Linked DNA regions of Homo sapiens: region 2 is reported to be linked to region 1. The links are microRNA targets in miRTarBase. Many come from high-throughput screens and were not tested one by one. Region 1 holds a microRNA gene; the other region holds the end of a gene's coding sequence.
Evidence for each region. Region 1 holds the annotated microRNA hsa-miR-942-3p (CACAUGGCCGAAACAGAGAAGU, at 1,985-2,006, shown strand). A microRNA usually pairs through its seed, bases 2 to 8, with sites in the 3' UTR of a target mRNA and lowers its output. Matches are read on the target gene's strand: a 7mer-m8 pairs with bases 2 to 8, a 7mer-A1 pairs with bases 2 to 7 and ends in A, and an 8mer does both.

Region 2: the mRNA of DSTN is a reported target of hsa-miR-942-3p. Seed matches in the 3' UTR shown: 7mer-m8 at 861-867 and 8mer at 2,858-2,865.

The regions. Positions count from the first base shown.
Region 1 is chr1:117,092,711-117,096,778 of GRCh38, forward strand. It overlaps MIR942 (microRNA 942), which reads left to right and starts at 1,933; the gene lies at 1,933-2,018. TTF2 (transcription termination factor 2) reads left to right here. Exons shown (of 23, transcript NM_003594.4): 18 at 21-191; 19 at 2,599-2,657; 20 at 3,439-3,589.
Region 2 is chr20:17,606,578-17,610,636 of GRCh38, forward strand. It overlaps DSTN (destrin, actin depolymerizing factor), which reads left to right. Exons shown (of 4, transcript NM_006870.4): 4 at 460-3,342. The coding sequence ends at 569. Among named protein-coding and RNA genes, the nearest start is that of DSTN, 39 kb to the left of the region's middle.

The DNA.
Region 1 (4,068 bases):
GTCCTTTTTTGTCTGTTCAGGCCCTGGATCCAATGGAACTGAAGGGTGAAGGTCTTGTCCTTTCCCTGGAAGAACAGCTCAGTGCTTTGACCTTGTCAGAACTCCGTGACTCAGAGCCATCTTCCACTGTTTCCCTTAACGGCACCTTCTTCAAGATGGAGCTTTTTGAAGGCATGCGAGAGAGCACCAAGGTACTTTTTGTCTCCTCTGTAGTAGTCGAGAGACTTCGATTCCTCACACATTTTCCTGTGTGACAGCACTTCATTTGTCCAAGTGGGAACAGCCATTTGCCAGCAGAGCTAGAGCCGTTAAATTCTAGCTGATCAGATTCTCCCTCCAGTCTTAAAGCTTCATTTATTTCACAGATAACACTAAAGCCTTACTACATAGGGGACTTTGAGAGAGTAATTTGGGACAACCCCAGCATTGCACTGAAGTGGGTTTTCTGTCATGGGTCACTGGGGAGCTTGCCAGGTTTGTGCTAGGGACGGGGCCTATGCAAGTGAGCAATTTGTTTAGAGAAAGCTTAAAAGGAAAACAAAGGCTTGACTCTAGAGACTGTGTCATACATGCGAGCGCCAATTGCTCTGACTTTGAAAGGCTTCCACATGTGAGTAGTGTTTCCTACATAGCCTTCTGTCTTCATTAGTCATTCTGCTCTGTTTTCGTCAGAGCTTTTTAAGGCAGAAACATTCTGCTGGAGGAAGGCTTAGATATGCCGTAACCTGAATCCTGCCTGTCTGCTGGCTCGGAATGTGCTTCATCATCCTGCCTGTCTTGAAAGTGAGGCTTGTTTCTCTCTTAGCATCTCAAGCTGCCGTTCTTGGGCTCAACCTCTCTTCAAAGGCTTTTTTTGAAAAAGTGTATTAATAACTAGAAAGGTCACTTCCAGGGGAATGGCATTATTTTTTAAAAGGAATGCTGCCTTTTAATTAAAATTTGAAAACATTTACCTAGGTCTTTACCACTGATAGCTGAGAGAAACATAAGAAGAGCATCCCATGTGGCCAGAACACACATGCTAGTGCCTTCAGAGTGAGCTATTGGGCTAAAATTTAAATTCCTAATCATTTGTGTTCCTTGTTTAATTAAATGCAGGTAATATTTATTCACAAGTTTTCTTAACATATGTCCATTAATAGTTCAAACCACATACGGTTGTTTCAAGTAGGGAAGGAGGCTTCTTACTGGAATTTGACCCCGGCTCGTGGGCCATAAATCCAGCCCTCCTGCTGCAGTTTTCTCAAAACACCATGGCTAGCTTTTTCATGTGGGAGTCACAGCGCCTTCCACAATCTCAAGTTGCCAAGACACCAGGCACATCAGTGTCTCTGTTCTATTGTTAACTAAATAACAGATGTAGCTGCTTTTCTGTCTGCTAATTTGAATGGTACAGTTCTGTGACTCACTTCCTGCCTAGGCACCAGAATGTTTGTTAAGATTGGAAAGCAGCCCCATGTGGTGACCACTGTAATGACATCCTAGAATGTGGGAGCTCAGGGCACCTCAGAATTTATCTGGCCTAAGTCCTTCTTTTCACTGATGAGGAATCTGAGTCCCAAAGTGGTCCAGCCATATGAGGACAGAGGAAGAACTTCTGTATATTTGTCTCCTGATTGACTTACAGCCCAGTTTTCTTCCTTCTCCAGCATTCTGGGGGTGAACTCTGGGGCCCTTAGAGGCTCTTGAAAGGTTTTTCACATGAGCAGCTGGGAAGAATGAGCCCAGCTGCACTCCAAAGTCATGCCCCACGTGTTCTTACTGACAGCTCCCCTGTGGACTCAAGTGCACCCTAAGGGTTCTTGGGGAATACCCAGGGAGCCTGTTCGGAAGCTTTAACAATGGTTCCTCCGTCTGGACAGGTCCTTTTCAACAACATTTGGAGCAGGCCATAAAGTGGGTAAAGCTCTTTCACTTTCTTCTTCAGCAAACATTAGGAGAGTATCTTCTCTGTTTTGGCCATGTGTGTACTCACAGCCCCTCACACATGGCCGAAACAGAGAAGTTACTTTCCTAATATTTGCCTCCTTGGAGTGTCTCAAGTCCTGGAAGCAAGAGATAATAAGCAATTAATATACAGTATGACAAGGACCGTGATAATAGAAACAAAAGGTGCTATGATAGTACTTGGGCAGTGGGCACCTAACCTGTACTTTGGGGGTTGGGAGGACCTCCAAGAAGAAGTGACATTAAGCTGACACAAAAGGGTGTTCTAGGCAGAGGGAGCAGAATGGACAAGATGGCCAGTGTGTGATTTATGGGAAGAATTTTGGTGTGCTTGCTGTGTCGTTTGAGGAGGGCATGGTGAGAAACGAACCCAGAGAAGCAGAGGCTGGAGCAGCAAGAATCCGGCAAGCTGCCTTGAGGAGCTTGGCCTTTATCCTCAGTGGGAAGCTATGGAAGGGCTTTAGCCAGAGGGGTGAAGTGACAAACTCACATTTTAGAAAGAGCTTTCTGGCTGCAGAGAGGAGGGTGGAATAAAGACAGGTGAGGCCAGAGCACAGACGCCATGTAGGAGGCTGCTTCGCATGGCAGGTGAGGGGAGATGGAGAAAAGTGAATTGCTTAAACATACAATGTTGATGTAACCTTTTCCCAGATTTCATCTCTGTTGGCAGAATTGGAGGCAATTCAAAGAAATTCAGCATCCCAAAAGAGGTAACTGCGTTTTCTCATTATCCAAGTATTGGTCATAATTATGTGAGAAAATTTGATATTGCCAAGAGTTATAAATCAAGGACTGTGAGTCATGCTCAGCAGAAAGCACTGAGGTTATAGCACACATTCCCTGTGATTTCTAATTAAAATATTTGTGGTACAAATTGAAAAGGAGATCCCTAGAGGATCAGGGTAAGCGAAGCATCTGAAAAAGTGTTTAAAAGTAGAGAAGCATATAAAGAAAAGCAAGCGAGTGAGGAGGCTCCAGCAGTGCTGATAACGTTCTTAAGCTGAGTACTTGGATACAAGGACTCATTTGTTATACCTGACATATGTGCTATACACCTGCATTATTTATAAAATAATTCAATATAAAAATTTAGAACTCGAATTAAGACAGCGTGGGGGCAGGGAGGAGCCTGTTGTTCTGGCTGGCACAAGAAGGGTGGTCAGTGTGTCCCTTTTGTGCAGGACCACAGATTTCTGGATGAGCACTAGGACCCCAAATGAAAGAAGGCTGGAGTCATCACTTTACTCTAGCTACCATTTTTTTCTGACTTCATTTAGCACTAAATAAATTGTAGAAAGGACCTAGAAATAACTGGAAGCATTATAATCTTCAGATATGACCTAAATGTGTGCCTTCTCCCTTAGGTAGCAGAAGGCCTTTCCTTGTCAACATTTGATAGCTAACCTTAAGAATGATGAGGGCATTAAAGCCCTGCAGATGAGTCTGTTTAATCTATGTTAGGGTATTTTTTTATTTTATTCTTCTTTCCAGTGTCATTGTCTCTCAGTGGACCAACATGCTGAAAGTTGTAGCATTGCACCTGAAGAAGCATGGACTGACTTATGCCACCATCGATGGCTCTGTCAATCCCAAGCAGAGAATGGACTTGGTAGAGGCATTTAACCACTCCAGAGGCCCTCAGGTACAAGCTGGTCACATCAGAGCCGCATAATTAACTGTTCTGAGTTATACAAAGAGAATTCTTTTTGTTTGGTTGGTTTTTGTTTTTGTCTTTTTGAGACGGAGTTTTGCTCTTGTTGCCCAGGCTGGACTGCAATAGTGCTATCTTGGCTCACCGCAACCTCCGCCTCCCGGGTTCAAGCGATTCTCCTGCCTCAGCCTTTCAAGTAGCTGGGATTACAGGCTCCTGCCACCAAGCTTGGCTAATTTTTGTATTTTCAGTAGAGATGAGGTTTCACCATGTTGGCCAGGCTGGTCTTGAACTCCTGACCTCAGGTGATCCACCTGCCTTGGCCTCCCAAAGTGCTGGGGTTACAGGCGTAAGCCACCGTGCCCAGCCATATAAAGAGAATTCTGATATGGCAACTTAAAAATATTTACAGCCTTGATTCCTCCGAGTGTTTAGAATTTATTAGACATGTATTGGGATACTTTTAAAGA
Region 2 (4,059 bases), not on the chromosome of region 1:
AAAAGTGTATGTCACAAATTATTGTAGAATGTGTTGAATTTTTCAGAGTGAACATAATGGTTATTTCTTAATCTAATGACCAGCACCCCAGAAGCCTCCCTGGTGCTGTTCCCTTCAATTCATAGCACTTCTGCCTGCCCCTTCCTCCTCAAAGTAGCCAGCACCCTGGCTTCTAACAGCGTAAGTTAGCGTGGGCTGATTTTGTATGCTATACCTATATATATAATAGAATATATGCATTTTAAATCTGGATTCTTTCAGTGAATGCTGTTTGTGAGGCCCATCTATCTTGATGCATGTAGTTACAATTATTTTTTCTCGTTACTGTGTAGTATTCCGTGTTTGTATATACCCCAGTTTATCCAGATTAGAACTGGTCTTTTAAAAGTTTGGTTATCTTAGAGAAAGAGGTAAACTGCTGCCATAATTGTAAATAGAAGTGTTGTTTTTTCTCTCTAGGCATAAAACATGAATGTCAAGCAAATGGACCAGAAGATCTCAATCGGGCTTGTATTGCTGAAAAGTTAGGTGGATCCTTAATTGTAGCCTTTGAAGGATGCCCTGTGTAGATTATTCAGTGCCACAAATTGAAAGCTTCCATGTTTAATGTTATCCTCTTGCTATATAAATAAAGCAAATATATTTAGGCCAGGGTCTCACTGAGGGGGAGCTGTCTTGTCATCTTTTAGAGTAAACTATTCTATAAACATATGCAAACAGCCCTAAATAAATCTAAAGTCTAAAGTTTTATTGATGTGAAATTAAATTCTTATTGGCCAAATGCCTGTTTTGATGAGTTGATTTATAAAGATTTTTGTTAAGCTCAGGATTTTAAATTACACAGTTCACAAACAGTAAAGGCCATGTGAAGAGAATTATTACATCTTTATTAACCTCAGCATTTACTTTGTTTCTTTTGCTTAGGAAATTGCTCATAATCTGGTTATAATTTTGGTCCAAATTCTTTATTCTTCCTTGAGCTAAGCAGAATAATGGAATATAATATGTCTTCATAATATAACAACACTAATACACTAATAGTAAGATTAAGTTAGGCAGTCTTCTACCAAATGTGTAATGGAGATTGCCTCAAAATTGTGTCCACATAATCCACGCTCATCTTGCAAAGCGCTATTTCAGGCACATCATTGGAATACAGGAAGTAGCCCTGCACCTGCCAGTGAGCTCGCCATTCACTGATTGGAAGAGTGACCTGGCATCTTGGAAATCATTGTGTGTCTTCAGGAGAATGTGCAGTGTCTTGTAACAACTAATTATAATGCAAATTAGGGCTACATTGTAATCTGCTTTGTTAATGAAAATGATAAAACAGAATATTGACAAGCTAGGACACCTGTGGTATCTTTAATTGTATCTCCTTCAGAAGTTTGCTTCTTATGGTATAATAAAGTATGGAAGAATATTGAGTATATGTTTACTCTGGGCCTGGGAGAACTTAACTTTCTAGAGCAGTTTGTTGACTTGTGTGCAATGGGGAGAGGTACCATGATGACACTCACAGGGAGCCACTGTTCACTGACACTTGGAAGCGGTCATTGTTAATATCACGGGCGTAACACTTTGAACGATATAGAGATGCACAAACAGTTGAACTTAGAAGTAGCAGTATTGGCTTTATGTAATAAAGGAAGCATTTTTGACTTACCTCTCGTGTAATTTTCATGTGTGAATTGGGAATACAGGATTTTGCCTTCCATATGGGGTAAGGCATTGAGGTTTGGGTATTTCCAATAATTAAGAGTTAAGGTTGGCTGAGTGTGGTGGCTCACTCCTGTAATCCCAGCATTTTGGGAGGCCGAGGCAAGAGGATAGTTTGAGGCCAGGAGTTTGACAATCAGCGTGGGCAACATAGTGGGATCTCATCTACTAAAAATAAACAAAATTAGCCGGGTGTGGTGGTGCACGTCAGTAGTCCCAGCTACTTTGGATGCTGAGGTGGGAGGATCACTTGAGCCCAGGAGGTGAGCTGAGATCGTGCCACTGTACTCCAGCCTGGATGACAGAGCAAGACCTTGTCTCAAAAAAAAAAAAAAAAGTCACAACTCCCTCTGGTGAATAAGAAAGTTGGTGTAAAAGTTGGGAACGTTTTCAATGTTTATTACACTATAAGTGTAATAAATATTATACAAAATTATAAATTCACATTTAAAATTTAGAAAATAGAGAAAAGGGAAATTATACATTGTCCTACCACATGCCATCACATGGTTAGCATTTTGATACACAGCTGTGCATTATTACATGTCAAAGACTGCATATACTATGGTGGTCCCATACAATTATAATGTATTTTCTACTGTAATTAGATACACAAATACCATTGTGTTACAGTTGCCGACAGTATTCAGTATAGTAACGTGCTGTCCAGGTTTGTGGTCTAGGAGTAATAGGCTCTACCATACAGCCTAGGTGTGTAGTAGGCTATGCCACTAGGTTTAAGTGCAGTCTAGGGTGGGGAACATTTTAATGTTGATCCACATGCCAGGTGTTTGTGAGACAAGATTATGCTTTAATCAAAATATTTTGGAATTGTCTAGAAAATAGTGCTGGCTGCTTGTCATTCATCCTGAATTGCTTGTTTCTTTACTTTGTAGCAATGCTTTTAGTGTGGGTTTTGTTTTTTGAGACAGGGTCTCACTCTTTCCCCCAGGCTAGAGTGCAGTGGTGCAATCATAACTCACTGCATCCTTGAACTCTTGGGCTCCAGCAAGCCTCCTGCCTTGGCCTCCTAAAGTGCTGTGATTACAGGTGTGAGCCACTGTGTCCTGCTAGTGATTGTGATTAACAGGCCTCCAGGGAAGTGCCATAAGCCCAAGACTGCCGTACTCAAAAGTCAGCCATGTAGGTAAAGCAAGATATTTGGTCAAGGAGTTTTAGAAGGAGATTTTTCCTGTGGTGTTGGCTTAAGTGTGGCACTGTTGTGCGTGTGTGAGGTGTCTTCTGTGGGAAGGATTTCAAACAGTACAAAGGGATGTGATGTAAGCATCCAGAACTCACTCCAGAAATTGAATAAAATGCTAGTAGTTAGTCTCTAGGGGAACTTTTGAGAAAGTCTCAGTGGATTCCTGAGGCCCAAGAATTGTGCTAACAAGCACTCAAGGCGATTCTGGTACATAATTAGGGTTCAGACCTCAGCTGATTGGTCTACTGTTGGTCAGGAACAAAACTGCAAGTATACTCTGTTTCCAGAAAATACGTTTACCTCTTCACAAATGCTAACACACTGCAAAAATATGTTTGTGGAAAGCTGACTTAGTCTCATCTAGCGGTTACTCTCTTGCCCTGACAAAGCAGCAAATAAAGCCATTGCTAACAATTCAATCAGAGCTTGACTGTGAAGTTATCTCAGATAATATTACTCTGCAAAAACAGTGGACACAGTGACTTGGATAATAGGTTTGGTTTGGTGGTTTCCTTTCTGCAGAGTACCGGCTGCCGCAGGCACAGCAAGTGCAACTTGTTTCTTGACTATAATTGCCCTTCGGACCACCAGAGACTGAATATGCCCAACACGCATCACTTCTTCGTGATTTGGGGCATTTCTGAAATTGAGAACGGGCTCTAGACTGGGTTCCAGCTGGACTGCAGCTGGAAGGGACAGTAATGGCATTATGGCTGGTGAGGGGAGTATTCCAGGAGCCAGGGTTTCAGTGGAAGGCAGGCTTGAGTACCGTTTTGTTACTGAGGGCTCTCTGGGTTCTGCACAGTCCCAAAAGGGCACTGGGGAAGGGACTTATGGAGCCTCTGGCCAGTACCCTCAGTAACCAGCCCAGAGGTGAATTAACTTGCCTAAGGTTAATCGACTCACAAGTGGCAGAACTGGGACAAAAACTCAGATCTCTTGGTTTCTGTTCCTGAGCTATTTCCACCACCTCAGGAGAATTCACTTCATTCCTCTTATTATAATTGGATCATCTTTCCACATTTCTAACATCTGAAATTCAAAGGTTAGACCTTGTTCAGTGCTGGGGTGAGATTTGAAAGGGCCAAGAAGGAAAGCATTTCTTTTGCACTCTGAGCTCTCATCAGACCCAGCCC